Linked DNA regions of Homo sapiens. The main gene of each other region encodes a partner of the protein of the gene in region 2 in a complex. Each region holds a gene or a part of one and is shown on either strand. Other genes may lie near its edges.

What was found.
Region 1: LIN54 (region 2) and RBL2 share a complex: the UniProt entries of both Homo sapiens proteins name them as parts of the DREAM complex.
Region 3: LIN54 (region 2) and RBL1 share a complex: the UniProt entries of both Homo sapiens proteins name them as parts of the DREAM complex.
Region 4: LIN54 (region 2) and LIN9 share a complex: the UniProt entries of both Homo sapiens proteins name them as parts of the DREAM complex.

Annotation. Positions count from the first base shown.
Region 1 is NC_000016.10:53,429,501-53,437,470, forward strand, and holds the start of RBL2 (retinoblastoma-like protein 2), read left to right. Parts: upstream 1-4,970; 5' UTR 4,971-5,056; coding exon 5,057-5,296; intron 5,297-6,118; exon of another isoform or gene 6,119-6,226; coding exon of another isoform or gene 6,227-6,244; intron 6,245-7,970. UniProt on the Homo sapiens protein: Key regulator of entry into cell division. Directly involved in heterochromatin formation by maintaining overall chromatin structure and, in particular, that of constitutive heterochromatin by stabilizing histone methylation.
Region 2 is NC_000004.12:83,007,778-83,015,695, reverse strand, and holds the start of LIN54 (protein lin-54 homolog), read left to right. Parts: upstream 1-4,872; 5' UTR 4,873-5,212; intron 5,213-7,918. UniProt on the Homo sapiens protein: Component of the DREAM complex, a multiprotein complex that can both act as a transcription activator or repressor depending on the context. In G0 phase, the complex binds to more than 800 promoters and is required for repression of E2F target genes.
Region 3 is NC_000020.11:37,085,858-37,093,050, reverse strand, and holds part of RBL1 (retinoblastoma-like protein 1), read left to right. Parts: intron 1-3,928; coding exon 3,929-4,062; intron 4,063-7,193. UniProt on the Homo sapiens protein: Key regulator of entry into cell division. Directly involved in heterochromatin formation by maintaining overall chromatin structure and, in particular, that of constitutive heterochromatin by stabilizing histone methylation.
Region 4 is NC_000001.11:226,299,129-226,306,321, reverse strand, and holds part of LIN9 (protein lin-9 homolog), read left to right. Parts: intron 1-1,958; exon of another isoform or gene 1,959-2,060; intron 2,061-5,116; coding exon 5,117-5,149; intron 5,150-7,193. UniProt on the Homo sapiens protein: Acts as a tumor suppressor. Inhibits DNA synthesis. Its ability to inhibit oncogenic transformation is mediated through its association with RB1. Plays a role in the expression of genes required for the G1/S transition.

The DNA.
Region 1 (7,970 bases), on a different chromosome or scaffold from region 2:
CTGTGAGTGTATTAAACTCTTTCTCTAATGCAATTCCCCTATCTTGATAAATCTACTCAGTCTGGGCAGCAGGCCAGAAAAACTCACTGGACAGTTACAATTTCAACTCCTAGCATCTTGCTCAAGAACTAAGACAGAATCAGTTAACCTCCACGATCAAAAATGGCTGTGACTTAAAATCTCTTTCTTTGAAGGAACGTTAATGTCAAACATCATTTTTTTGTCCCACAGATTTCAGTTGGGCAGGGCTCAGTGGGAAGGTTCATCTCTGTTGTATACAACATCAGCTAGGACAATTTGACTGAAGGCTGGAGGATCTGCTTCGGCTTCCAAACTGGCTTATTCAACACAGCTGAGGGCCAGAGGCCTTGGGTCCTATCCACATGGTGATAACTGCAGAATTCTTGGCACATAAAGGCTCCTTCCAAACCTCTGCACTTAAGAGATGACCATATCTCATGAGCAAAAGAAAAGAGAGAGAGAGAGAGGATCAAATTTTTGCATTGCTTCTGGGAGCTTAGGGTCAATTCTCTGGAATGATCCTGGGCTCCCTGCCCCCACCCTCCCATTGAAATCATCAGGAAGAATAGGGGTTCTGTCTTCCAGTCTGTGTAGGGGACAGTAGCCTGACTTTGATAGTTGCTGGCTAGTAGACACAACTAGCCTAATGACATTAACATTGACCCACCTTTTGTAATTTTTTACTCAAGCTCTGCTCTCTCCCCCTCCTCCTTTACTCTTTCTTTAAAAGGCCAAGTCACATCTAAAAAAGTTGGAATGAAGCTCAGCTCTTTCCCTGCTGTCTGTCAGTAGTTACTCAGTAAAATCCGTTTTTCACACTTTAACTAATGTTCGGCTTTGTTTATCTTTGACAATAGGTGACCTGGTCTTTCCCACAGTATGTTGGCTGGGTACAAAGAGTGAATGAAGAATGACTGAGAGAATGAGAGACAGAGAGAGCACATGTGCCAGTCAGGTGAAAGACCTCTTGCATTTTATGACTAAGCTTCATAAGTCAAATAATAACCTCAAGGAAATTTAACTTCTCCATATCAGAGGCATCCAAACCAGAGTGACTCCATCTTGAGTGATGGCTAGGAAAAATGGGGCTGGGACTGGCTGGGCTGCATTCCTAGAAAGTTAGGTATTCCTAGCCCCTAGATGTTTATAGTTAAGGGAACACATTGATAACATTTACTAAACAGACCCAGACTTAGGAGTGTCCTGATATCCCGATATCTTGAGAACAGAAGCATTCCTAATTTTGCTTTAAAGATAATATCAATTCTTGCAAAATATAGTAATTAGGAAGATTAATCCTTTATCACAAACCCTTGTGGCAGAGCACATCTCCTCATGATCTTTCTAAATCCTATTTATAAACAAGTATTGTACCTAGGGTGGATGCATTCCTCCTCCTACTTTCGGGAACGTCCTACTCTCTATGGAGTAACTGTTCTCTCATCACTTTACTTTCTTAATAAACTTTCTTTTGCTTTGCACTGTGGACTCGCCCTGAATTCTTTCTTACATGAGATCCAAGAACCCTCTCTTGGGGTCTGGATCGGGACTCCTTTCAGGTAACACTCACACCCCCATTCCACCCCACCCCCATCCCAAAAGGCTTTGAAAACATTGGTATTAACAAGCAAAGGATATTTTAATAAATACATATTTGATGGTTTATTGCCACCAATTTTGCTTACATTGCAATAATTATTTAAATTACATTAACTTTTACTAAAAATAGTAAAGATAATTTCACATCGTTTGTTTAAGTTAAACAGTTTGAAGTTAAACTTTAATTGTTAAAACAATTTAAGTTTTTCTCTTAGTTGCTAAAAGAAAAACTTTGGACAAGTTAACAGTTTAAGCAAACAACAATTCATGAATTGGGCACCACTTAAAACAAGAAGATATTCAGAGCGCTTCTGCAGGTGAGCAGTAAGCTTTAATAGAAAAGTAAAACAGTTACTTGATTGGCTACAGCTGGGTGTTTGCCTTATTTGGGTGTGAGGGCTGGGCCCGGTGGCTCATGCCTGTAATCCCAGCACTTTGGAAGGCCGAGGTGGTTGGATCATTTGAGGTCAGGAGTTCAAGACCAGCCTGGCCAATGTGCTTAAACCCCGTCTCTACTAAAAATACAAAAATTAGCCGGTGTGGTGGTTGGCTCCTGTAATCCCAGCCACTCTGGAGGCTGAGGCAGGAGAATCGCTTGAACCTGGGAGGCAGAGGTTGCAGTAAGCCGAGATTGCATCATTGCACTCCAGCCTGCGTGACAAGGCAAGACTCTGTCACCAAAAAAAAAAAAAAAAAAAAAAAAGGAAAATCCCTAATTAGAGGCTAGTTGGCAGTTTCTGATTGGTTAAGCTTATGTTTTGTTTTACTGTTGTCTTACTGTTTACACTGAATTCTGGTTTGCTTACATATAAGCTCCAGCTACAGAGACAGATGATATCAGGCTCATGGCCTCTTTATTTGCTTTGACATAGTAAAGTGTTGATAATGATTTCCAAAGGAAGAAATATCATTATTTTAAAATCAATATTCCCAGTGTATATACAGGTAAAATACTAAGATTTTAATACACTTATTATTTATTAATTTATTTATTTATTGAGATGGAGTTGCTCTGTCGCCCAGGCTGGAGTGCAGTGGCATGATCCCAGCTAACTGCAGTCTTTGCCTCCTGGGTTCCAGCAATTCTCCTGCCTCAGCCTCCTGAGTAGCTGGGATTACTGGCACCAGCCACCACTCCTGGCTAATTTTTTGTATTTTTAGTAGAAATGGGGTTTCACAATGTTTGCCAGGCTGGTCTTAAACTCCTAACCTTAAGTGATCTGCCCGCCTTGGCCTCCCAAAGTGTAGGGATTACAGGCGTGAGCCACCGCGCCTTGCCAAATTATTTATTATTATTTTTTTGAGACAGGGTCTCTGTTGCCCAAGCTGTAGTGGCATGGTCACAGTTCACTGCAGACTCCCCAGGCTTAGGCGTTCCTCCCACCTCAGTCTCCCAAGTAGCTAGGATTACAGGCGTGTACCACCACTCTGGGTTAATTTTTCTATTTTTTGTAGAGACAGGGTTTCACTATGTCGCCCAGGCTGGTCTCGAACTCCTGTACTCAAGCAGTCCTCCCACCTTGACCTCCCAAAGTGCTGGATTTACAGGTGTGATCCACAACGTCCAGCCTATATACTTAAGATACTTCTAAACCATTTGTGTTCAACTTCTGTTCTTGCCCCATAGTCACCTTGAGACTCATCACTTAGCCAACTCCAAAAGCATTGCTGATTACTGTGAATTTTACTAAGGTTTTCTTAAGAGGGTTCCATTGTCTCAAAATTGTTCCTGAAATATCCTGTTACCTGTCTACCTGATTTTCTCCTATCTTCAGAGTTCCATTTCCTGTCCTCCCGCCTGTCATTATACCTTCCATAAGCCCCTACTTTTGTCCCAGCACTTTTCCCTCTGTCAGTTTACATATCCCACCAAGCAAAACAAAAATAGCAAAACAGTAATGCCTTCTGAATCCTCAAATTGCTCAATCCTCAGATTGCTCCTCAATCTGGAAAATGTTTTATATCAAGCCCATTTATAAATCAAGGATTGGCAATTTAAAAAATTAAAATAAAGAAAGGAGAATTGGAAATAAAATGAATTGGCTGGGCACGGTGGCTCACGCCTGTAATCCCAGAACTTTGGGAGGCCGAGGTGGGTGGATCACTTGAGGTCAGGAGTTCGAGACCAGCCTGGCCAACATGGTGAAACCCTGCCTGTACTGAAAATACAAAAATTAGCTGGGTGCGGTGGCGCACACCTGTAATCCCAGATACTCAGGAGGCTGAGGCAGGAGAATCGCTTGAACCCAGGAGGCGGAGGTTGCAGTGAGCCGAGATCGTGCCACTACACTCCAGCCTGGGCAACAGAGCCAGACTCTGTCTCAAAAAAAAAAAAAAAGTTTAATTCACGCAGAGCCAGCTGAACGGCAGACAGGAGTTTGGTTATTCAAATCAGCCTACCAGAAAATTCGGAGACTGGGGTTTTTAAAGAATGACTTGGCGGGTAGGGGGCCAGGGATTGGCGAATGCTAATTTGTCAGGTGGGAGGTGAAATCACAGGGGGTTGAAGTGGGCTCTTGCTGTCTTCTGTTACTGAGTGGAATTGCAGAACTTGTTGAGCCAGATTATGGTCTGAGTGGCGCCAGCTAGTGCATCGGAATGCGCGGTCTGAAAAGTATCTCCAGCACCAATCTTAGGTTTTACAATAGTGATGTTATCCCTGAGAGCAATTGGGGAGGTCAGGAATCTTATAGCCTCTGGCTGCAAGCCTCCTAAATCATAATTTCTAATCTTGTGGCTAATTTGTTAGTTCTACAAAGGCAGACTGATCCCCAGGCAAGAATGGGGTTTGTTTTTGGAAAGGACTGTTACAATCTTTGTTTCAAAGTGAAATTAGAAATTAAATTCCTCCTGTAGTTAGTTAGGTCTTCGCCCAGGAATGAACAAGGGCAGCTCGGAAGTGAGAAGCGTGGAGTCATTTAGGTCAGATCCCTTGCACTGTCATAACTTTCTCACTGTTAGGATTTTTGCAAAGGCAGTTTCGTGAACGTACAGAGACAGGCCCTTGCTATTATCCCTATTTTTTAGATAAGGATATCCAGGCGATGAGGAAGTTTTACTTCTGGGAACAGCCTGGATACGAAACCTTCACACGTCAGTGTCTTTTGGACATTTTCTCGTCAGTACAGCCCTGTTGAATGTTCTCACGGTGGGGAGGTACGTGTTTAAAATGCGGGGAAGGTGCTTTTATTTCACCCCTGGTGAAACTAGGGGAGCTAATTTTTTTAAACATGATTTTTGGCCCCCTTGAACCGCCGGCCTGGACTACGTTTCCCAGCAGCCCGTGCTCAAGACTACGGGTGCCTGCAGGCGGTCAGCGTCGTTTGCGGCGGCGCAGGCGCGGTGCGGGCGGCGGACGGGCGGGCGCTTCGCCGTTTGAATGGCTGCGGGCCCGGGCCCTCACCTCACCTGAGGTCCGGCCGCCCAGGGGTGCGCTATGCCGTCGGGAGGTGACCAGTCGCCACCGCCCCCGCCTCCCCCTCCGGCGGCGGCAGCCTCGGATGAGGAGGAGGAGGACGACGGCGAGGCGGAAGACGCCGCGCCGCCTGCCGAGTCGCCCACCCCTCAGATCCAGCAGCGGTTCGACGAGCTGTGCAGCCGCCTCAACATGGACGAGGCGGCGCGGGCCGAGGCCTGGGACAGCTACCGCAGCATGAGCGAAAGCTACACGCTGGAGGTGCGCTCGCGGGCGGAGGGGCGCTTCCGGCCTAGTTGGCGTGAACCGGTGCCTTCCGAGCCGCGTCGCGCGCCTCGAGAGACTCTCGGGCGGGTTGCGGGCTCCCAGCCCCGAGAGGGGTGGGGACTTCCTCTGCGCTATTCCGAGGCTCTTAGCCGCTCCGAGGGCTAACCCGCTCTCGCCGCGCTTTCCTGCGGCTTCCGAATGGGGAACGCGTCTTGCCCTAAAGTAGCACAGCAAGGCTGAGATCGCGCTGGGGTCCCGTTGAGGAAAATGGGTGTGTGTGGCCCATCTGACCCCCCGCCCGCCTTGTTAGTAGAATGAACTAGTGTCGTTGTCAAGACCACACGGACAAGGGGAGGGGACTTGCCCTTATTTGCACCGCGATTAACCGGGTTGTGGCACCTGGGTCTCCAGGCGTCTCCGTCTGTTCGCTTCCCCCTGTTAACCAAATTGCCTTTGCCCTGGCGTTGCGGGCGTTTGAGTCAACGTGCTGATGCGTTTTGGGCTGTGTTTACGTCTGTGTAAACAAATTAATACTCATTTCCCCCCAGGCCAGATGAAATGAGCCCTCCGCCGACCCGGATGTAGACACATGCCCCCATTTGTCACTAGGATCAGGACTGTGGCTACCTCGAGGGCTTTTTGGTCACCCCGGGCATTGCACAGGACTCCTGTTGTTGTTGCGATCCGGGTGTGTTAGGTCGCAGCCTTCGGACAGGGCTTGCAGATGAGAAAAATGGCCATTCTAGCCAGTGAGTGTCAGCTTTGTATGCACCTCCCCTTCATGGGCCAATGGGAAGTGACACGGAAGTACGGATTGTTTATCAGCTGTTTGACTGTGTGTGTGGCATTTAAACCTGAGGCCATTTGATTTCTCAAGTCGTTTTATAATTAATTTGTAGAAAGAGTCGGGCAAATAGGTCCAGGATGCAAAGCCTAACCAAGGTATTATTTAAATATGATGTTTTTGGCTATGTGTACTGATGAGTGAGGTTATTTTTAATTTGTATTTGCATTAATAGAATTTTAATTCAATTACTAGTTCCCTCTTTGAATTGTTAGGTCTGCAGAAGATAGTGTATGGTGGCTTTAGAACCCGACAGACCTGAAACCGCTGGAAAAGTTCAGTATGGTGATCTCTAAACTGGAGATATTTGTGTTTACCTCACAGAGCTGTTCTGAAGATTAAATAAGGCAATAATGTAGTTTCTGGCACATAAAGCACCCATATGGACAGTGTTTTCAAGTTTACTAAGCTCTTTGTATATTTACATGATCTGGCTGAGTAAGCTATGTTCCTATTCATCTCTCAGTGCCTTTCTGTAGTCTGGCAAAGAGAAGGACTGGTTGGCTTTTTATGTTGTTTTTTGTTTTTTGGGTTTTTTTTTGGTAAATGGCCTTAAAGGCTTCCAAACAAGCTCTTATTTTACCCTCAAGATAATCCTGTAAATCAGATAGAACAAGCATTATCGCCATTTATTTGAGGTATTTCAACTCATAGCAGTTAAGTTGTATGAAGTCTAGTGATACATGAGCAAGTATCACGTAATAGCTGGTTAGTAAATTATTTTTGAAAACATGTTTGATTACTCAATTCTTTTGATTACTGAGACTTTAGTTTCAGCTTCTTAGCCCAGTTTATTCAGTAAATGATTTACTCAGTAAAATATTCATCAAATATTTCTTGAGCACCTATTACTTGCTACACATTGTTCTAGGTGCTGGATATAGAGCAGCAAACCTGCTCTTGTGGGGCTTACAGTGAGGTACGCTGTGACAATATGGGATGTCATTCTCATGGGAGTGCAAGGGAAAATAAAGCTCTTATGATGTTTAATACAGAATACTGGTTATGGAATTTTAACTTGATTTCTTGTATTTTCTGTGCATTTTTAACCTGTAACTCATTCTCACAGTCCTCAGCCAAGAAAATGCAGCCTCTGAGACTGTTAAGTAATTTCCCCACTGTGTTATAGCTACTGTATGGCAGAGCCGGAATTTGAAACCAGATCTATTTGACCCTAGAAGATGTGACCATGAGATGTTAATTTTGAGGATAACTTTTTTAGTATTATGGAATTTTCAACATATATTTTTTAGGACCAAAGATAAACTAGGCACAGAGTCTACTCTTTGCATAAATTATTTAAAAGAGCTTCGCGCTCCATTTTGTCATCTAAGCACTGTAAAATTCTCACAAGACTAATTCTTCTTTTTAGGAACGATATAGTTGTAAACTTTCTATTTTTTTTCTTTTTTTTTTTCTCCCTCCACCATCCAAGTAGTTGTGAATTTTCTAGAGCCAAAATAGAACATTATAGATTATCTTTTAAACCCTTTATTGAAGCAGAGGATAATGCTGTGACCGACTTAACTTTATGCTTTCTAAGAGATATTGATATAGTAGAGAAATGCAGTAGTTATGCATCTAAATTTGCTTTTACATCATAAATCAAGAATATTATGAAACCATCTCCCAGAGATATATGTGATACACAGATCTTGGCTGTTTTTTTTTTTTTTACAAAAGAACATCTATGCTATTGATACATATAAGTGGGTTTGTAAGACAGTCTATGTGTAAATGTGAAAAAAGGAAGAATTTCCAGTTCTTCTCATTTTCATTTAGACCAGTAATGAATACATTGAAGCTAAAGGACATCTTCCATCC
Region 2 (7,918 bases):
CCTGACCTCGTGACCCACCTGCCTCGGCCTCTGAAAGTGTTGGGATTACAGGTGTGAGCCACCGCGCCTGGCCCCTATGATTATTATTTTTTTTTATTGTTTATTGTTTTGAGACGGGAGTCTCGCTCTGTCGCCCAGGCTAGAGTGCAGTGGCGCGATCTCGGCTCACTGCAACCTCCGCCTCCTGGGTTCAAGCAATTCTCCTGCCTCAGCCTCCTGAGTAGCTGGGATTACAGGTGCCCGCCACCACGCCCAGCTAATTTTTGTATTTTTAGTAGAGACGGGGTTTCACTATGTTGGTCAGGCTGGTCTCGAACCCCTGACCTTGTGATCCACCTGCTTCGGCCTCCCAAAGGGCTGGGATTACAGGCATGAGCCACTGTGCCTGGCCTGATTATTTTTAATAAGGACCATTTAGTCTCCTTCTTCCTTTATATTATACCTCTTCTTTCATTTTTTCTTATTTAACTTAGCTAGGACACACTCAAAAACGGTAAACAGCTACTATATCCCTGCCTCCTTATTGAGTTTCTGATTTTAAGGTGAAAGCCTCTGCCATTTCACTGAAATGTATGGTGTTGTTCTCTGATGATTATCTTGATCCAATTAAGGAAACATTCTTTTATTTCTAGTTTACTAAGAATTTAAAAAATTCAGGGTGGTTATTGAATGTTATACAATGTATCTCTAGAGACTATCATTTGGTTTTTCTCCTTCAATCTAATAAATTACACTAGTAGATTTCTTAATGTTAAATCACTGTTTCGGTTAAACCATATACTTTGTCATGATGTAAATTCTTTTTACTACCACATTGCTGGAATTTGATAACATCTTTTTTTTTTTTTTTTAAAGAGTCTCACTCTGTTGCCCAGGCTGGAGTGCGGTAGTATGACCTCGGCTCATTGCAAACTCTGCCTCCCGGGTTCAAGTGATTCTCCTGCCTCAGCCTCCTGGGTAGCTGGGACTACAGGCGCATGCCACCACGCCCGGCTAATTTTTGTATTTTTAGTAGAGACAGTGTTTCACCATGTTGGCCAGGCTAGTCTCAAACTCCTGACCTCAGGTGATCCACCTCCCTCAGCCCCGCAAAGTGCCAGGATTACAGGTGTGAGCCACTGCGCCCGGTCTGATAACTTCTTAATTCTTTTTATTTAAAAAAATTTTTTTTGTAGAGATGAAATCTCACTATGTTGCCCAGGCTGGTCTCAAACTCCTGGTCTCAACCCATCCTCCTGCCTCAGTCTTCCAAAGTCCTGCGATTACAGGTGTGAGCCACAGCACCAATAACAACTAAATACTCAATTTTGCCTTCATAACAAAATCATAGCAAGAAAGGAAGTTTCCCTTCTCTTTTTTGGGTACTGTTTGTCTTGGGTTTTAGTATAAGAGTTATGCTGCCTTGTGGAATAAACTGGGAAAGGGTCTCCTTTTTTTGAGATATTTTGGTCTCTCTAAAATCTAGCCAGTTTTGGGTACCCCATCTCATTCTTTTCTTCCTTCCAGTGGTGCCCCAACAGCACCATCAATCATTTTACCATGAGGATTTCTCACACTAGCTCTCAAGGTTCCTCATAAAGTGGGCTCACAATGCTGATCTCCAACAAAGCCTTTGTGTCATTCAACTTTATCACATTACTTACACATGTCACAGACCTTCCCATTTTCAAGGCTTTGCTAATTTCATGACATTTGCCTTGTTAAATCCTGACTATTAGTGTTTGGGCTGGTACTGGGTGTTGATTATGGCACAAGGGAACTAACATTTCAGGCAGAGACTGTGTACCTGCTTAACACCCTTCATTTTATTTAACCATCAGAATCCTGGGAAGTTTTGTTATTTTTATTTGCTGGATAGGAAAATAAACGTTATACAATATACACTAATAAACGGAGGTGCCATTAAATACCAGTACTGCTTGATTCCAAAGTGACTGCTGCCTCCCCTACACTGTTTCACCTCCTCCATTATGTTCCCGAGGTAGTCTCTCATGCTGACCTGTATGTCCTCCGTACTCCATTAGCAAATTATACACTGTATCGCACCATCTTACATTTACACTCTTGTATTTTCTATTTTCGTATATGTAGTGCTTGTCGCACTCACAGCAGTTGATAATAATCTCTCAGAATAATTTTTTTTTCCCCTCAGAATGATCTGTCAGCGTCTGTTCATCCGACTCCGTATTTGGATATCATATAAATCGCGGGAAAAAATAAAAGGTGATTAAATACAAATAATTTTGACTGTGTTAGTCTTAGCTGCGTGTTGCAAGAAATGCAAAACGTCTTTCAAAATAAGTTTAACTCTCAATGAATCTCCCTGTGGCTTTTTAGCGACACTGCAAAACTAGTGCCTAAAAACACAGTGACTTGGCATTTGTGACTACTGATCACCTCCTCACTCAAGCACATCAAACAGCGGGATATCCTGGAAGTCGCACCTACAACCCGGACTTCCTAACAAGGAAAGCTAGACGAAGGGACGGTCTCTCCCAACCGCAGCGCGATGCGGGTCCTCCCCCCATCAGCTTCAGTCCGATGGAACATTCCGTGCGATCGCTTTGACCGGGCGCCACTCGGCGTCACGTGGAACTGGAGCGCCCTGGCGGAGCCCGGCGGAATGACGCGGGCTTGGGTTGCCAAGGGGAGGGACGAGGCGCCGCGGAAGAGGCGGAGCGAAGGAAGCCGGCCGTGGGGCGGGGTGCGGAGCGCAGGGGCGGGCAGAGAGGGGCGCGCGGGCGGGGAGGGCCCAGCGTATTATGGGATGCGGCGGTGGAATGGGGCTGGGCGCGTGATTTTGAACAAACCCTGGTCTGTGTCTCGGAGGCGCCGCCGCCGCCGCTGCTGCTGGGAGCCCAGGGAGCGCCGCGCGACCAGGAGGCGGCGGCGCCGCCGGCTTTGGTGAGTGTCAGCCCCCGGGATGGGGGCTCCTGGGCGGGCTGGCGGGAAGGGGGAACCGGCCCCCGCTGCGAGTGCCTGCGCGGGCGGAGAGCGCTGGACCGCTCCCTCCGGGAGCCCGGGCCGGTGGGCCTTGGCGGGGAGCGGGAACCCGCCAGCGGGGTCCGCCGCGCCCCTTCCCTGAAGCTGGGTTGCGGGGGGCGAAGGATCCTTGGGGCTCGGTCTCTTCCCGTCGGCTCCCGAGAGGGTGGCTGTCACCCGGCAGGGCCAGCGCTCGGCCAGCCGCCTGCCCGGCGGTCTGGAGTAAGGGCTCCTGCGGCTGTTGACACGCACACTGCGCGACCCAACAAGCCACCCGTGGCGGCCCCAGGTTTCTGGGAACCGGTTTTGCTGCTGTGTCATTTTGTGCCAGTCCCTCCTCTCCCTACTGCCCGCCGCCGCGTTCTTCCTATGCCCCTTTGTACAGGCTCTTGTTCGTGCGTGTCCGTTTTCCTCGCGAAGCCCACCAGCCAAATGTCATAATGTTCCCGAGGTGCACGGGGGAAGGGAGCGGGCCGGGACTTAGCTTGGCCAGCAACGGTAAACAACCAAGCAGAGTGCGGATGGACGGGGCCGTCAGTGGGGAAATGAAGTTTAAAGATGAAGTAATTGAGAACACTTTATACTCTCAGCATCTGGTAGTCTGCATATAAAAACAGCAATTGGGGTGGGTGGTGGACAGCCCTTGTTGAAGGCTGAATCTACCGACTTTTATATGGAGTTGCCATTGAAACAAGGTAGGGAAATGAAATGACTTTTTCAACTTCAACTTCAACCTTACTCTTCCTACACTAACTTAGACAGTAGAGTGGCCCTGTTCGCAGCCTTGAAATTCAGTTTGCCCAGAGCTTATGTTGTGGTTGAATGATACAGAATTCAGCTTTTGGATGGTTAACTCTTTCTAAAATTGACAAAGGCAGCCAGTTTCCTTTTTTTTTTTTTTTAATGCTGATCTCTTCAGAAGCCTTGCAGCTTATGTTTTGTTATTTTTTAAATGATTAAGAATTACCTCTGTTCTCTTTTGGTTACTTATTCAACTGACTGATGACAAGAGCTGGTAACTCTTACCTACCTAGTAGGTAGCTCTAGGATCTTGTTCTGAAGCAAGCTGTTTATTTTTACTGTACAGAACAAATATATCAGCAGCAGATGGTTTTTTTTTAATTTGATGACTTAGATCCTAAAAAAACATTTGGCAAATAATTTTAGCTAAGAGTTATATTTTCAATATTTTAGAAATCGATCATTCATGAATGTTTCTACAATTAGTTCAATCATTTCAAATCTAGTTGCGCTTTGACGTCTTAAACCGATGACAGATTGGAAGTCGCAGTGTTCATGGACAGAAATGACCAGATAAATTAAGTTGGAGAGGAAGATAGCTCAGAACTTTATTTTTTTAAATTAGATATTTTGACCACTTCATCTGCATGAGGATTGCTGCCTGTAATTGACAAAGGTGTCAAAGGTCGAACATGCATATGGAAATAGCTCATCCTGTCAAAGTAGTTCTGCGGGTGGGGTAAAATGTCAAAGTTGGTGAATGACATTAAAGGTCTTTCACAGTGTTTTTAGTGCCTGAGATAGCCACAGTGAATGAAACGCATTCCACCATCTCTCTCAAGTTGCTGCTCTGAAAATGAAAGAGTTTGGGTTCTTTATTGTCCTTATGCCACCCTCCGCATGGCTTTTGGTCTTGCAAACAAAAATATGCCGGACTTGGGACCCCGCAGGTGGCGCGACTTCCTTTGGCGTCCCTGCGGGGGCCCGTGCTCCGCCCGGGGGTGAAAGGTCTCGGCGTAGCCCGTGTGCACTTGCACGGCCCTTGTGCGTTTGAAGGTTGGCGGGGCGGCGGGAGGCTTCCCCGGATATGTGGGTGTGCGCCTCCCGGGTGGGGCGGGCGGGGAGGGGAGGAGGAGGAAGGGGGAGGTTACTGGTGGTGGCGGCGGCGGCGGCGGCCCGGGCTCCGGCTGTCGGGGAAGCTGCTGAGCTGTGATGGTGATGACGAGGTGAAAATGGCGGATCTTTCGAAATACAATCCCGGCCCCTGACATACCAGAGGCGGCGGCGACGGCGACGTCGCCACCCCGGCTCCCTTCTCGGTCCCCGGGTACCCTGGAGCGCTCCAGTTTGGACAAACTGGGAAAGGAAGCTGCTGGCCAGAGCTATCGTGCACGGGCAAAACAAGCCCCGCCGGGGCTCGGGATTGCCCAGGACCTTCTGGAGCCCCTACCTCGGAGCCCGAGGGAGGAGAAAGCGGCAGCCGCTGGAGGTAGAGGAGGATGGGGTACCCGAGGGCTTCTCTGTCCGGAGATCTCTTTATTTGGGGGGATGGGGGTGGGTGGGGAAAGAATTGCGCGGTGGATCAAGGAATGACTTGTCCGGAGTGCGAAGAATCAGTAGCCTCGTCATGACATCAACATTATTCTTTGAGTGTTAAGAGGGCTCCAGTTTGCTCTTATACCTAAGGCTGCTGCTGAGGCCTAGAGGAACCGCTAGCACTTATCATGATTTCCTGATATAATGTTTAAAACAGCCACTCTGGCGGGTGTTGCTTTGATGGTGTTCAGCAGTTCTTGGGGTTGTACGTTTCTTTAGGGAGGCAGAGCATTGGCATTTTATCTGCATTTAAGATCTGTGTCTTAGATCCTAGTCTGTAACTTGTTGGGTTGTGGATGTTCACATTTTATAGAATAGGGACCAGTTTTGTAAGAATTAGAAAAAAAATTTTTAATGCTCTGTTATCCTTAGAGTAACTAACCTCTTTGCCCCTGCCATTTGGCATATAACAATTGAGATACTCTCAGTTATATTTTATACTCATGCTTTTCAGGGAAGTTCTTCTCTATACTCACCCTCCTGCCCCCGCCAACCTAGTTCATGAATTCAGAGAGTAAAGTTATGAAAAATTTTGCTGTAGATTTTATAATGCAAATGAAATACAGCTCTAGGAGCTCTCTTTTGGTCCTGAGTTTTACCTTCATTGTTAAGAAGGAGAGTTGCGATGGGGTGATGCAAGCATTTGTTGTGAGTACATTAAGTTGGGAAAAATAAATTGAGACCTCTGTTATTTCTAAATCACTAAATGCTGGAGTGATTAGCCTAGCCCTTTGTTTAGAGAGCTGGATTGATTGACTATAACAGCCACTGTTTTATTAGGTTATCTGAAGACCCATGTTAAGTTTTAGGTTATGCTGAAAGATCCGTAAGGAGTCTGTCTCCTTGCACACAACACTAGTGTTACAGAAAAGTTACATGTGAATCAAATTTTTAGGCTGGGCAAAAAAATTTTTATACATTAATTTGGACCCTATGCTTTTCCCCCAGCTTTTTTGGGTCAATGACATTGAGTGTATAATGAACAGAAGGATTAGTATTGAGGAATGCCCATGGGTAATGTTTATGATTAGCCCTAAATTTCCGTATTCAAATTGTCTACAGAGAGTATATGTGATATTATTTCCTTATTCAAATTGTCTACAAAGAGTATATGTAACACACTGTGCCATAGTGTGTCATATATCACAAATTTTGTAGTTTACTTAGAGGGGAAATATTTTGTGTGAATAGGTGTGTATAGTTTGTAGGTCTGGCTTTCACTTACTAGAAGAATAAGAGACCCAAAAAAATTTTTAGGAGAAATACCTTAGAGGTACTCAGAAGGTTTAATGATGACGATAATGATTATTTTTTAAAAATAATTTGTCTGATGCTGTATTATTCAGTAGGTATTTGGTTTTGTCTTTTTAAAATTACAGTTTTTATGTTGCAGTTATTTGACCCATGCCTTATAGCTGCTGACTCAGTAGTAAGACTAAGAATTTTAAAAATAATTAAAATAGGGAGATTAAAAAGCTTTTTCATTGGCTTTCTTTTAATCACAGAGGGCTATTGTCTCTTTGTGATTCTTTGTGATTGTCTTTAAAGACCAGTTTTCAGATTGTCCTGGTTAGAACAATTGTGTATTAATAATTAAAAGTGTGTTAGAAATGAAGCAAGAATTATACCACCAGAGATAGTCCAGTGTTCATTTTTTGGGGGAAGAGTATTATAGATTTTCACTACTTTTTCTTTATTTTTTTCCAAGGCAGAGTTTCACTCTGTCGCCCAGGCTAGAGTGCAGTGGCGCAGGCTAGAGTGCAGTGGCGCGATCTTGGCTCCCTGCAAGCTCCGCGTCCTGGGTTCACGCCATTCTCCTGCCTCAGCCCCCTGAGTAGCTGGGACTACAGGCGCCCGCCACCACGCCGGGCTAATTTTATTTGTATTTTTAGTAGAGACGGGGTTTCACCATGTTAGCCAGGAAGGTCTCCATCTCCTGACCTCGTGATCCACCCACCTCGGCCTCCCAAAGTGCTGGGATTACAGGCGTGAGCCACTGCGCCCGGCCGATTTTCACTACTTTTTCAAACATTATTATTGGGTGTCTATTAGGTGTCATATAGTATGCTAGGGATAGTGGATAAAATAACCTCAATATCATTACTTCAGGGAACTTTCAATTTAAGAATCACTGGAGGTGAAGTTGGAAGGATCAATTCAGTGGGGTCTTGCTGCAGAAGGCCTTAAGAGTTACAGAAAATGTAACTTAGTGTAGGATAATGACAATCTCAGAGATATACTTCAGAAGATAAATCTTGTACATGTAGCTTTTATGTAGAATGCATTGTAGGTAAGGGGAGATGGAGGTAAAAACACCATAGTAGGCTTCAGGAGTTGGAGATTTAGACACAATTGGTTACAGGAGGATAGAGTCATGGTGAAGGTGTAATCTGCATGATATATGACAGATTAATATTTCTATGGAAAGAGAGATGTCAAAGATAATACAATTGTAAGCCCTGGTGTTTGATAGAATTTTTTTTTTTTTAAATGAGATGGGTTCTCACTCTGTCACCCAGGTTAGGGTGCAGTGGATCTCAGCTCACTGCAACCTCCGCCTCCCAGGCTCAAGTGATAATCCCACCTTAGCCTGGTGAGT
Region 3 (7,193 bases), on a different chromosome or scaffold from region 2:
CTTATAGCTTGTATATCTCACCAATTATAAATGATAGTATCTGTTCCTCTTCTTAGCTCCAGATGTGAAGTTCTGTGAGATCAGAAAACATTTTTTGTATTTCTAAGGCCTGGCAAGTAGGCCTTAGAAATGCAAAAAATGGTTTCTGATATCATAGAATTCATAGAATTTTTATGAAATAGGATTTTATCAAATAGAATTGTATTCTATTTTATTCTCATGGAATAAAATAGTTGACTTTTTTAAGGAAAGAAAGTCAGGCCAGGCACAGTGGCTCACACCTATAATCCCAGCACTTTGGGAGGCTGAGGCAGGAGGATCACTTGAGCCCAGAAGTTCAAGACCAGCCTGGGCAACATAGTGAGACCCTATCTCTACACAAAATAAAATAGGCTGGGCATGGTGGCTCACACCTGTTATCCCGACATTTTGGGAGGCTGAGGCAGGTGGATCACTTGAGCCCAGGAGTTTGAGACCAGCTTGGGCAATATGGTGAAACCCCATCTCTACAAAAATTAGCTGGGTGTGGTGGCATGTGCCTTTAGTCCCAGCTACTCCAGAGGCTAAGGTGGGGGGATTGCTTGAGCCTGGGAGGTCGAGGCTGCAGTGGCCCTCATTCCTGGGAAGTCAAGACTGCAGTGGCCCTGATTGTACCACTGCACTCCAGCCTGGGGCAACAGAGTGAGACCCTGTTTTAAAAAGTAAAATAAAAATCAGTGTATTCTTTAATGTCTTTAAAAAAATCGAAACAATAATTTTAGGACTTATATTTTCACCATCTTGCTAGAATTTTCATTTAGTAGCCTGTATCCAAAGGCTCTATAATACTTGGATGCTAATCCCAAACAACTCTTTCTCTTTTTCTTTTTTGAGACAAAAAAAGGGCCTCAGGCACTTCTCCCATCTCAGCCTCCAGAGTAGCTGGGACTACAGGCGCATACCACCACGTCCTGCTAATTTTTTTGTATTTTGTAGAGATAGGGTTTTGCTGTGTTACCCAAGCTAGTCTCGAACCCCTGAACTCAAGCAGTCCACCCACATCAGCTTCCCAAAGTGCTGGAATTACATGCGTAAGCCACCATGACCAGACCCTATTCCCAAGCAATTCATTAATCAAAGCTTGTAAAAATATTCATCTTTAAGCTTACCTGCCTCATTTAGTGCTTTGAGAAAAGACTTCTCATTCCTTCAGGGTAGGAACATTGGGTTTATTGATGGCCACCCATTTCTACCCACCCCTTTTAGATTATTGCAAGAAATCTTTTTATCAATCTTTTTATCCTTCTAGGGTTTGGTCTTAAAGACAGTCTGTGGAACAGTGTATAAGAACACTATTGTGTTGTGCTATCAGATTTACATCTGTAATTCTTTTTTTTTTTTTTTTTGAGATAGAGTCTCGTTCTTTCACCCTTGCTGGAGTCCAGTGGGTCAGTCACAGCTCACTGCAGCCTTAACCTTCTGGACTCAAATGATCCTCCCATCTCAGTTCCCCAGGTAGCTCTAACTACAGACGTGCCACATACCCGGCTAATTTTTTCCTTTTTTGTACAGACGGGGGTCTCACTATGTTTCCTAGGCTGATCTTGAACTCCTGAGCTCAAGCAATCCTCTGCCTCAGCCTCCCAAAGTGCTGGGGTTACGAGCATGAGCCACTGTGCCTGGCCTTTATCTGTAATTCTTGTTTTTTTTTTTGAGATGGAGTCTCACTCCCGTTGCGCAGGCTGGAGTGCAGTGGCGTGATCTCGGCTCACTGCAACCCCCACCTCCTAGGTTCAAGTGATTCTCCTTCCTCAGCCTCCCAAGTAGCTGGGATTACAGGCGTGCGCCACCACACCTGGCTAATTTTTGTATTTTTTAGTAGAGACGGGGTTTCGCCACATTGGCCAGGCTGCTCTCAAACTCCTGACCTCAGGTGATCCACCCATCTCGGCCTCCCAAAGTGCTAGGATTACAGACGTGAGCCACCGCACCGGCCTATCCGTAATTCTTAATCCTTAAACTTCAGCTATTGTATTTCAGCAGTGAAGTCATGAAGTGATTCTAGCTTGGAGATGTCTGAAGTCTAATGCAGAAAATTGTTGAATTCCCAAATGTCACCTTTTTGTGGCATTGTAAATTGAGATATCTACTAATATAAAGAGCCGTGCTTACTACAGTCGTGTGCTGCAGAATGTTTCAGTCAGTGATGGACCACACATACTTTATTTTTACTATATGTTTTCTGTGTTTAGATACACAAATAATTACTATTGTGTTACATTTACCAACAGTATTTAGTATAGTAACATGCTCCACAGGTTTGTAGCCTAGAAACAATAAGCATACCATATAGCCTAGGTTTAGTAGGCTATGCTATGTTTGCACAACAAAATTGCCTAATGTTGCATTTCTCAGAATATATCCCTGTCATTAAGCAATGCATATGACTGTATTTTAAAGATGACATGTTTTGGGGTAAATCCCCAAATGTTTACCTTACAAAAATGACAGTCTCCTTCATGTTGCGTAAGATTAATATTAATTTTTTATGTGTGACTCCCTTGCCAACTTTTTACTCTGTTCTTGCCTTTCCCTGCCACACTAAAGAGAAACATAAAGCAAAAACGATAGAAACTTCAGGATCATCAAGGCCATTTCTTAAAATCAAGAAAGTCATGCTGACAAATTTTAATAAAACTCTTCTGGTAATTCAGACATGCTTCACTTAATGACAGGGACATGGTCTAAGAAATGCAACATTAGGTGATTTTGTTGTGTGAACTTCACAGAGTATACTTATGCAAACCTAGATAGTGTAGTCTACTATACACCTAGGCTGTTTAATATAGCCTGTTGCTCCTGGGCTGCAAACTTGTTCAGCATGTTTCTGTACTGAACACTATAGGCAACTATAATGGTGAGTATGTGTGTATCTAAACATAAAAGGGGTACAGTAAATTATAATTTTTTAAATATATAGAACAGTTAGAACATACAGTATTACAATCTTTTTTGTGTGTGTGACAGAGTGTCCCTGTGTTGCCCAGGCTAGACTGTAGTGGCACGATCTCTACTCACTGCAACCTCTGCCTCCCGAGTTTAAGCTATTCTCCTGCCTCAGCCTCCCAAGTAGGTGGGACTACAGGTGCATGCCACCACACCCAGCTAATTTTTTGCATTTTTAGTAGAGACGGAGTTTTGCCATGTTGGCCAGGCTGGTCTTGAACCCCTGGCCTCAAGTGATTCACCCGCTCCAGCCTCCCAGGCATGAGCCACCGCGCCTGGCAAGTATTATAATCTTAAGTGACCACCATTGTATATGTGGTCCAGTGTTGACCAAGATGTTATGTGGCATATGCCTGTATTAGATTTGGAGTGTAGGTGAAAGAGTTTTTTTCTTTTTTTTTTTTTTAAGAGACAGGATTTAAGAGACAGGATCTCGCTCAGCTGCCTATGTTGGAATGTAGTGGCACAAACATAGCTCACTGCAGTCTTGAACTCCTGAGCTTAAGCGATACTCTTGCCTCAGCCACCCAAGTAGCTGGGACTGCAGGCAAGCACCACCATGCCTGGCTAATTTTTTTATTTTCATTTTTAGAGTCTACGTTGCCCTGGCTAGTCTTAAACTCCTGGCATCAAGTGATACTCGCACCTCAGCCTCCCGAGTTACTGGGATTACAAACATGAGCCACCAAGCCAGGCTTTTATCTTTAGATTAATATTAATTTAGCATGTTATAGTTGTAAAAACACAGAACTAAGAGTAAGGAGTTTTATACCCATTACTGCAACTAACAGCTTTGTGACCTTGGGCAAATATCTTCACTTCTCTGGCCCTTTATCTACATAAGGAAAATTGAGACCAGATAATTCTACATCTCTTGTTTCTAGAATTAAAGCATTTTAACATAATATTATACCTGTTTTGCTGTTTGTCTTTTGCTTGCCAGGGAGAAGTTACACACTGGTTGGCATGTTCATTATATGTTGCATGCCGCAAAAGCATTATTCCCACGGTTGGAAAGGGTATCATGGAAGGCAACTGTGTTTCACTTACCAGAATACTACGTTCAGCTAAATTAAGGTAAACCTCTTTGATGTTTTTAAATGTTATATAAGCTCTAAATTTTGGAATCAGTTTTCTCTTGTTTTGAGATCATTTGACTTCATTTAATTTTTATTTTATTTATTTATTTATTTATTTATTTTTGAGACGCAGTCTCACTGTGCCAGCCAGGCTGGAGTGCAGTGGCACAGTCTTGGCTTACTGCAATCTCTGCCTCCTGGGTTCAAGTGATTCTCATGCCTCAGCCTCCTGAGTATCTGGGATTACAGACACACACCACCAAGCCCGGCTAATTTTTTGTATTTTTTTTTTTTAGTAGAGATGGGGTTTCATCATGTTGGTCAGGCTGTTCTCGAACTCCTGACCTCAAATGATCTACCCACCTCAACCTCCCAAAGTGCTATGGGATTATAGACGTGAGCCACTGTGTGACTTCATTTAATTCTAAGTTATAACATAGATAATCCTTTCCCAATTTTCATATTCTTTCTCTGCCTTTCTCAAATTCTGCTAGAAACCTCTGTGTTGAATCTTTAGCTATACTTTTTAAAATTAATTTTTTAAAATTTGGAAATAATTTTAGGCTTACAGAGAAGTTACAAAAATAAGAAAAGGACAATACCCATATACCCTTGACTCAGAGTCACCTGTTATTGACATTTTATCCCATTTGCTTTCTCATTTGATTTTTCTTTCTTCAATATATAGATCTTTCTCTCTCTCTCTTTTTTTTTTTTTTTTGAGATGGAGTTTTGCTCTTGTTGCCCAGGCTAGAGTGCAGTGGTGCAATCTCAGCTCACCACAACCTCTGCCTCCTGGGTTCAAGCGATTCTCCTGCCTCAGCCTCCCGAGTAGCTGGGATTACAGGCATGTGCCACCACGCCTGGCTAATTTTGTATTTTTAGTAGAGACGGAGTTACTCCATGTTTGGTCAGGCTGGTCTCGAACTCCCGACCTCAGGTGATCCACCCGCCTCAGCCTCCCTAAATGCTGGGATTACAGGCGTGAGCCAGCACTCCCAGCCAGATCTTTCTCTTTTTATCCTCAACCATTTCAGTCTAAGTAGCATACATTTGTAGCCTTTTACCCCAAAATACTTCACTGTGTATTTCTTTAAATAACTACAGTACAGCTACCAACTTCAGCAAAATTAACACTGATAAAATAATTTTATTTAACCTGCTAACTCTGTTCTAGTTTTGTTAGTTGATTCAATAATGTTCTTTATGGCATTTTTTTTCCTGGAAGTACAATTTCTAATTAAGGATCAGGTATTGCATTTGCTTATCATGTCTATTTATTCTTCTGTAATTAGGAACATTTCCACAGCCTTTCTTTTTCTTTTATGACATTACCATTTTTGAAGAATATAATCCACAATCACTTTGTCCCTTTCTTTAATTAAAAAAAATTTTTTTAGAGGCCGAGTCTTGCTGTATTGCCCAGGCCTCGAGTGCAGTGGCACCTTTTTAGCTCACTGCAGCCTCAAACTCCTCAGCTCAAATGATCCTCCTGCTTCAGCCTCCCAAGTAGCTGAGACTACAATCATGTGCCACCATGCCTGACTGATATTTTTAAATCTTTTTATAGAGACAGGGTCTTACTATGTTGCTCAAGCTTGTCTCAAAGTCCTGACCTTAAGTGGTCCTCTTGCCTCAGCCTTTTTTTTTTTTGGGACAGAGTCTCACTCTGTTGCCCAGGTGGAGTGCAGTGGTGCAATCTGGACTCGTTGCAACCTCCGCCTCCCGGGTTCAAGCGATTCTCCTGCCTCAGCCTCCTGAGTAGCTGGGACTACAGGCATGTGCCACCACGCCCAGCTAATTTTTGTATTTTTCGTAGAGATGTGGATTCACCATATTAGCCAGGCTGGTCTCAAACTCCTGACCTTGTGATCCGCCTGCCTCAGCCTCCCAAAGTGCTGGGATTACAGGCGTGAGCCACTGTGCCCACCCTCATCCCCTCTTTTAATAGATGGTTCCCAATTTTGGATTTGTCTCCTATTAACTTTTGATTAGATGCAGGTTAGTCATTCCCTGATGGAAAACTGTATAAGTGATTTTGTCTCCTGAGGATATCACATCTGATGATGGCATGTGTTATCCATCTGCATCTCATTGGTGATGTTAATTTTTGTCATCTGGTCAAGATGTTGTCCTATTTCTCTACTGTATATTAATTTTTTTCACCTTGCAGCTACTCTATGGGTCTCAGATACATCTTTTACTTACTCTAGTATCAAGCATATAGAATTATTTGGCTGGATAGGAAACAAAACAAATTTAGCTATCCAGTTTGGATTCATGCTAATATTCTTTGTTTCTGGGACAAAACTATTTGTGGTCATTGTCTATTTGCTATTCCTGTGTTTCCAGAATAGAAGAGGAGCAAAGTTTAAAGCCCTATTCAGAAATGGCAAATAGGTTTTAGTTGATGCTAAATTTAAATTTTTTTTTATTTTTATTTTTTGAGACGGAGTTTTGCTCTTGTTGCCCCGGCTGGAGTGCAATGGCCTGATCTCAGCCTCCCCAGTAGCTGGGATTACAGGCGCCCGCCACCACGCCTGGCTAATTTTTTATATTTTTAATAGGGAGAGGGTTTCACCATGTTGGCCAGGATGGTTTCAAACTCCTGACCTCAGGTGATCCACCCGCCTCGGCCTCCCTAAGTGCTGGGACTATAGACGTAAGCCACCGTGTCCAGCCTAAAAAAAATGTTTTTAAACAACTTTGGTTCTAAAAATAAAATAAGATGATAAAAATTAAATGAAGATCAATGGGGTTAATTTTTTAATTGAGCAAGACATTATCATTGTTAGTATAAAACAATCTGATCTTTTTCTGTCAATGTTTGTCATTGTTCATATAATTTCAAAAATCTTTGTAATGACAGATTCTGGGGGAACTAAACAAAAAAGAATTATAACAAAACAAATGTAGAGCAGTACATGGCAGGAGAATCACTTGAACCTTGGAGGTGGAGGTTGCAGTGAGCTGAGATAGCGCCACTGCACTCCAGCCTGGGCGACAGAGCAAGACTCCATTTCAAATTAAAAAAACAAGGCTGGGCGCGGTGGCTCACGCCTGTAGTCCCAGCACTTTGGGAGACCAAGCCGGGTGGATCACAAGGTCAGGAGATCGAGACCATCCTGG
Region 4 (7,193 bases), on a different chromosome or scaffold from region 2:
GACAGAGTCTTGCTGTGTCACCTAGGCTGGAGTGCAGTGTGCGATCTCAGCTCACTGCAGCCTCCGCCTCCCGGGTTCAAGCCATTCTCCTGCCTCGGCCTCCTGAGTAGCTGGGTTTACAGGCGCCCGCCACCACACCTGGCTAATTCTTGTATTTTTAGTAGAGGCGGGGTTTCACCATGTTGGCTAGGCTGGTCTCAAACTCCTGACCTCAGGTGATGCACCCGCCTCAACCTCCCAAAGTGCTGGGATTACAGGGGTGAGCCACCGCGCCCCCAGCCACTTTCCTCCCTTTCACTTCCCATATTTAAGCCTTTACTAAGTCTGTAAATTTTACCTTCTAAATATCTATCAATTCTACCCATTTCTTACCATCAGCATAGCCCAAACTGTTACCATTTCTTCTCTTTACCAATTACCTCAGCCTCTCATTAATTCAGCCCCCTTCCCACAAACACACAGCGAGAGGGATCCTTTCAAAACGAATGTATGTCATCCTCCTGTTACAAACCCTTTAGTAGCTATAAGACCCTTTGTGGTCTGGCTGCTCCCTACCTCTCAGCTTTATGTTTTACCACTTGTCCCCTCATTCTATCCCTTGGGGTAAATTGGACCTTTTTCATTCCCGATACTCGCCAGTCTCCCCTTTTCTCCAGGGTCTTTGCACATGCTGTTCTCTCAACCTGGAATGCTACCCCCCCACACCCCCCTTACTTTCAGTTAACTTCTAATTGTCTTTTAGATCCCATTTTATGCTTCTTCAGAGAGCCATTTCCCATCCTCCCTGACTAAATTATGTCTTCTTTAAATCTGTTTTTTGTTTTTTAAAGAGACAGGGTCTCCCTCTGTTGTGTAGACTGGAGTGCAGAGGCATGATCGTGGCTCACTGCAGCCTTGATCTTCTGGGCTAAGGAGATCCTCCGGCATCAGTCTCCCCAGTAGCTGGGACCGCAGGCATGTACCACCATGCCCAACTAAGGTTTTTTTTTTTTTTTTTTTTTTTTTTCTTTTTTTTGTAGAGACGAGGTCTCCCTATGTTGCTCAGGCTGGTCTCAAACTCCTGGCCTCAAGCGATGCTCCTGCCTTAGCCTTCCAAAGTGCTGAGATTACAGGCTTCAGCCACCATGCAGGGCCTATCTTTATTTTTTTTTAAAGATGGAGTCTTGCTCTGTCACCCAGGCTGGAGTGCAGCGGTGCAGTCTTTGCTCACTGCAACCTCCGCCTCTAGAGTTCAAGCAATTCTCCTGCCTTAGCCTCCTGAGTAGCTGTGATTACAGATGTGTGCCACCAAGCCCGGCTAACTTTTGTATTTTTAGTAGAACCTGGCTGGTCTCGAACTCCTGCCCTCAAGTCATTTAGCCCCCCAAAGTGCTGGGATTACAGGTGTGAGCCACTGTGCCAGGCCAGGCCCATATTCTTTAAATCTTTTTGTATTACTATGTAACTTCCTAGTGGCAGCTATTACAGTTGCAGTTTTGTATTTGTTTATGTGATTGGTTAGTAGCCCCATCAGAGCAGGTACTGTCTTAATTGCATTCCCAGTTCCATGCATAACACCTGGCTTACCTCTGCCCTTTCATACCATTCTTCCCTATGCAAGCACAGTCACCCCTCCTCCCTTCTTAGGACTTAACCTGTTTCTTCTGCCCAGACTCATTGCTTTGATTTCCTGCTCTCTCACAGCTAGTTTTTTAGATGTTACCTCCTCAGAGAAACCGTCTGTACTCAAAAGTAAGGTAGCTAGTACTTAGAGTAATTCCCCCGTCCCCACCAATATCACCCTGTTTATTTCCTTTATCATGAGCTATAATTATTATGTACGTGTTTTATATATATATGTCTCTTTCCACTAGAGTTTAAGCTTCCTGTGAGGAGAGGCTTTGTTTGTCTTGTTCTTTGGGGTAACCCTCGCCCCTAACAGTGCTTATGGTAGGCATTCAATAAAATTTTTTTTTCCACATCAGATGGGTCATGTGCTGACTTTTCACAAAGTTTGAGAGAGACACATCTCACACATGAGTATGAAAACCCAATCATCATGCTTATGAACTAAGAAGGGTAGAATCTTTGGATTAATGAACACCTCGTTAGAGCAAGATTCTAATTTAATCAGATTCGCCTGACTGAAAAATCCATGTTCTTAACCTATTATTTTTTGATTGCTCAAAATAATACTAACAGCATTATATCAAAATTAACTGTGTAATATATGCATTGTTCTATGCACTTTTACATGTATTAACTCATTTAATCCTCATTTTACACATGAAGAAACAATAGCACAGAGAGGCAAAGTAACTTGCTTAAGGTAGCATGCAAGAAAGTGTCAGGACCAAGATTCAAACATAGCTAGTCTCAATCTAGAACCTGTTTTCTTAACCACTATGCTATCCTGCATCTAGAAAAAGGAAAGAAGGACCGGTTGCGGTGGCTCACGCCTATAATCCCAGCACTTTGGGAGGCCGAGCCGGGTGGTCACCTGAGGTCAGGAGTTCGAGACCAGCCTGGCCAACATGGCGAAACCCTGTCTCTACTAAAAATACAAAAATTAGCTGCGTATGGTGGCATGCACCTGTAATCCTAGCTACCTGGAAGGCTGAGGTGGGGAGAATTTCTTGAACCCGGGAGGTGGAGGTTGCAGTGAGCTGAGATTGCGCCACCGCACTCCAACCTGGGTGACAGAGTGAGACTCCATTTCAAAAAAAGAAAAAGAAAAAAGAAAACGAAAAAGAAAAAAAAGGTTAAAGGTGATTGGTCAGAATCCCCAAGATATGGTTCCTGCCTTCGTGGAGCAGGAGTGGATATTCTTATGGCCTATATACCTCTTCCTTCAGATCTCTGCTTAAGCATCACCTTTCATAGAAGCTCATCATGAACACCTTATATACAAATAGTTTTCCTTCCCTCCATCCCCACCCTGCGTATTCTTCTTCTTCTGCTTTATTTTTTCCAGAGTGCTTATCATTACTCGATAGCTGTTTTTGTTTGCCTCCCATCACTAGAATGTACATTCCATGAGAGCAGGGACTTTGACTATTTTGCTTGCTGTTGTATTCCCATTGCCTAGAGCAGGTAGGGACTGGCATGCCATCAGTACTCTACATATTCAGTGAGTGAATGGTTACTACTTTTTCTCAAATGCACTGCATATCTTTTGGTACACAGATGTGTGTATTGTCTACTATTGCTGCTTTACAGTTGTGTTTCATTGTTTGAGACTTTTTAGCAAGATTTTATGTCATTCACCCCCATGACTTTACTGCCTTTTGTCATTAAGCTTCATTTGCCATGCAGAAGCTTTTATGGTGTCCTGTTAACTATTCTTCACATCTGGGCAAGAGAGTAGAGTGAAAGTAAGTGTCTTTAATGCTAATAGGTGTCTGTTTCACAAGTCTCTTACACAGACCTGTGGAGGAAAAAGTCAGTTGAGGTTTAGTGATCAGAGATGCATAGTGTTTAAGGATCTGAGATGAAGTGTTTCATAACTGCCATACTTTATCTGTTGCTTCTCATTTTAAGTCTGTTATCCATTTATATGAGATGTAAATCATAGCTGCTTTTGTTAAATAGCAAGGAGGATTAATCCGTCCTCTCTGATTTTTGTTCCTAGTTCATGTTCTTTTTTATTTAATCCCCTGAGATCATCCTTAATTATTATTTTTCAGATGACTTGGACTTTGCAATGTATACATCCAATTCTGAGATTTTTAAATTTAGTGCTTTCTCACTCTCAAAAAGCTTCTTTCTCTATTGGTTTGTTTTTTTTTTTTTTTTGGACATGGAGTCTCACTCTGTCACCCAGGCTGGATGGAGTGCAGTGGCGCAATCTTTGCTCACTGCAAGCTCTGCCTTGTGGGCTCACGCCATTCTCCCACCTCAGCCTCCCGAGTAGCTGGGACTACAGGTGCTCGCCACCACACCCAGTTAATTTTTTGTGTTTTTAGTAGAGACGGGTTTTCACCGTGTTAGCCAAGATGGTCTTGATCTCCTGACCTTGTGATCCGCCCACCTCGGCCTCCCAAAGTGCTGGGATTACAGGCGTGAGCCACCGCACCCGGCCTCTCTATTGATTTTTCTACTTTCCCTACCCATAGATCCTATAATTCATTCACACCAGAACCTGTAGCCTGATGTTTCTCAAAGTGGGTTACCTGCAACAGAATCCCCTGTTGTTTATTAATAATATAGATTCAGTCTAGATTTTGCATGTATGAGGAGCTTCCTTGTTATTCTAATGTCTTTTTTATTTTTTTGAGGCAGAGTCGTACTCTGTCTGTCAGGCTGAAGTGCAGTGGCACGGTCACAGCTCACTGCCGCCTCAACCTCCCAGGCTCCAGCAGGCCTCTCACATCAGCCCCCTGAGTAGCTGACACTTTAGGCACGTGCCCCCATACCCAGTGAATTAAAAACATTTTTTTAGAGACAGGATCTCCTTATGTTGCCCAGGCTGGTCTCAGACTCCTGGCCTCAAGCTAGCCTTCCCACCTTGGCCTTCCAAAGCACTGGGATTACAGGTGTCAGCCATCATACCTGGCCTCTAATGTACACTGGAGTTTGTTTTATCCAGTGGACCCCTCCAACTTTATTCTAGCCCCTCTTGGCCATTCTGTATTCCCTTTTCCAGCTTAGATCTTGAAGTATCACATATACCTGCATTCTAGACTTTCAAGGGACTTATTGCTTGCTCTGACAGTCCCTGAATCATTTCCATTGCCTGTTTTTTTCCACTCCATTACTACATCAGTCTTTGCCTCAATGGATGTCGGTTCCCTTTCTCTTTTCTTCCAGCACCACAGCACGCCTGGATGAGGATCCAAAATTACCTCTGTCCCCACTCTTCCTCTTTCTTCTGTTTCTTCACTTTCTTCTCCTGGAATGGTCTCCAGTTCTCACAACTTCAGCAAGACTCTCATATGTCTCTCTCCAGTTCTTTCTTTATCTGAGTTCTGGTTTATAGTTTGAATTGTCTGCCAGATATTTCGAATTGCACATTCCACCATCTCTTCAAACTCAACATTACTAAAACTAAATGGATCACTTTTACCCCCAAACCAAGGTCTTTTTCTCTCACTTTGGTTATGAAATAATTATTGATTTGTTTTATTTTTAATTGCAGGCTCTTCAGCAAAAGCCCTTGTCAGTTTAAAAGGTAAGAAGTATAGCATTTTTAGGTATACCATAGCTAAAAGTCTAATTTGTTAAATTAATCTGGATATAGTGTTTCCATTTTCCTTCTAAGTTATGATTCATTGTAGCTTTTCAGTATTGGTTTTCACTGATAACCTTAAATTAATATGCTTTTATAGGAGAATTGATCCTCAGTTGTTAGAAATTATTTTTAAAAATTTCTAAAATTATTGATTAAAAACCTTTCTAATTAAACATTCCATAAATATTTAGATTAAAAGCATTTGTTAAACGACTGTGCTGACCTATATGTTAGCATAATTGTTTGTTTGTTTGTTTTTGAGACAGTCTCTCTCTGTTGCCCAGGCTGGAGTACAACGGTGCAATCTTGGCTCACTGCAACCTCTGCGTCCCAGGCTCAAGCGATTCTCCTGCCTCAGCCCCCTGAGTAGCTGGGATTACAGGCATGTGCCACCATGCCTGGCTAATTTTTGTAATTTCAGTAGAGACGGGATTTCACCATGTTGGCCAGGCTGGCCTCAAACTCCTGGCCTCAAGTGATCTGCCCACCTTGGCCTCCCAAAGTGCTGGGATTACAGGCGTGAGCCACTGTGCCCAGCAGATTTTTTGTTTATTTATTTTTTGAGACAGGGTCTCGCTTTGTCACACAGGCTAGAGTGTGGTGATGTGATTACAGTTCACTGTAGCCTCGACCTCCTGGGCTCAAGTGATCCTCTTGCCTCAGCTTCCCATGTAGCTGGGACCACAGGCACATGCTACCATGCCCAGCTAATTTCTTTATTTTTTGTAGAGAGGAGGCCTCACTTTGTTGCCCAGGCTGGTCTCGAACTCCTGGGCTCAAGGGATCCTGCTGCCTCAGCTTTGCAAAGTGCTGAGATTACAGGCATGAGCCACCACACCTGGCCCGTAATAGCTTATTTTTAAGAGTCTTGCTTTCACTGGGCACGGTGGCTCACGCCTGTAATCCCGGCACTTTGGGAGGCTGAGGCAGGCGGACCACTTGAGCTCAGGAGTTCGTGATTAGCCTGGCTAACAAGGTGAAACCCCATCTCTACTAAAAATACAAAATTATCCGGGAGTGGTGGCAGGTGCCTATAATCCCAGCTACTTGAGAGGCTGAGGCAGGAGAATTGTTTGAACCTGGGAGGCAGAGATTGCCGTAAGCCAAGATCGCGCCACCACACTCCAGTCTGGGAGTCTGGGTGACAGAGTAAGACTCTGTCTCAAATTCCAAAAAAAAAAAAAAAGAATCTTGCTTTCTAAGTAATAATGTCTTGAAATAAAAATAAAAGAATAATAGTACTTTTCTCATTCTAAGAAAAAGTTTGACATGTTCCTTGGTCTCACTATTTCTTTTGGCAGGTACATTAGACTAACCTTTTTAACATAGTTTCTTTAAAATTTTACCTCTTGATTAAGATTCTGGTAGGTCAATAAATTTGGAACCAAGCTAAATATTCTCAAAGTACTTTTAGTCTTTAAAGCTACTATATTGTGCTTTGGATTGGTGATTTACCAAATTAAATCCTTCTAGCTTGAGAAGACAATTTGTCTTCCAGAACACCCCAGTTTGTTTGTCTTTTGTGATTCTTAAAAATTATTCCATTATTCTTTTTCTCCCAATATTAAACTCATTTCTCTCCCCCCTGCCTTTTTTTTTTTTTTTTTTGAGACTGAGTCTCGGTTTGTCGCCCAGGCTGGAGTGCAGTGGCACAATATCTTGGCTCACTGCAACCTCTGCCTCCTGGGTCAAGTGATTCTTGTGCCTCAGCCTCCTGAGTAGCTGGGACTGCAGGCATGCATCACCACACCTGGCTAATTTTTGTATTTTTAATAGAGATGGGTTTTCATCATGTTGGCCAGGCTGGTCTTGAACTCCTGACCTCAGGTGATCCTCCCACTTTGGCCTCCCAATGTGCTGGGATTACAGATGTGAGCCACTGCACCCGGCACTCATTCATCTTGATAAATCATTTATATAAGTAACGTACATTTCTTATGGAAAAAATGAGAAAATGCTGATGAGCCACTAGAAGAAAATAAAA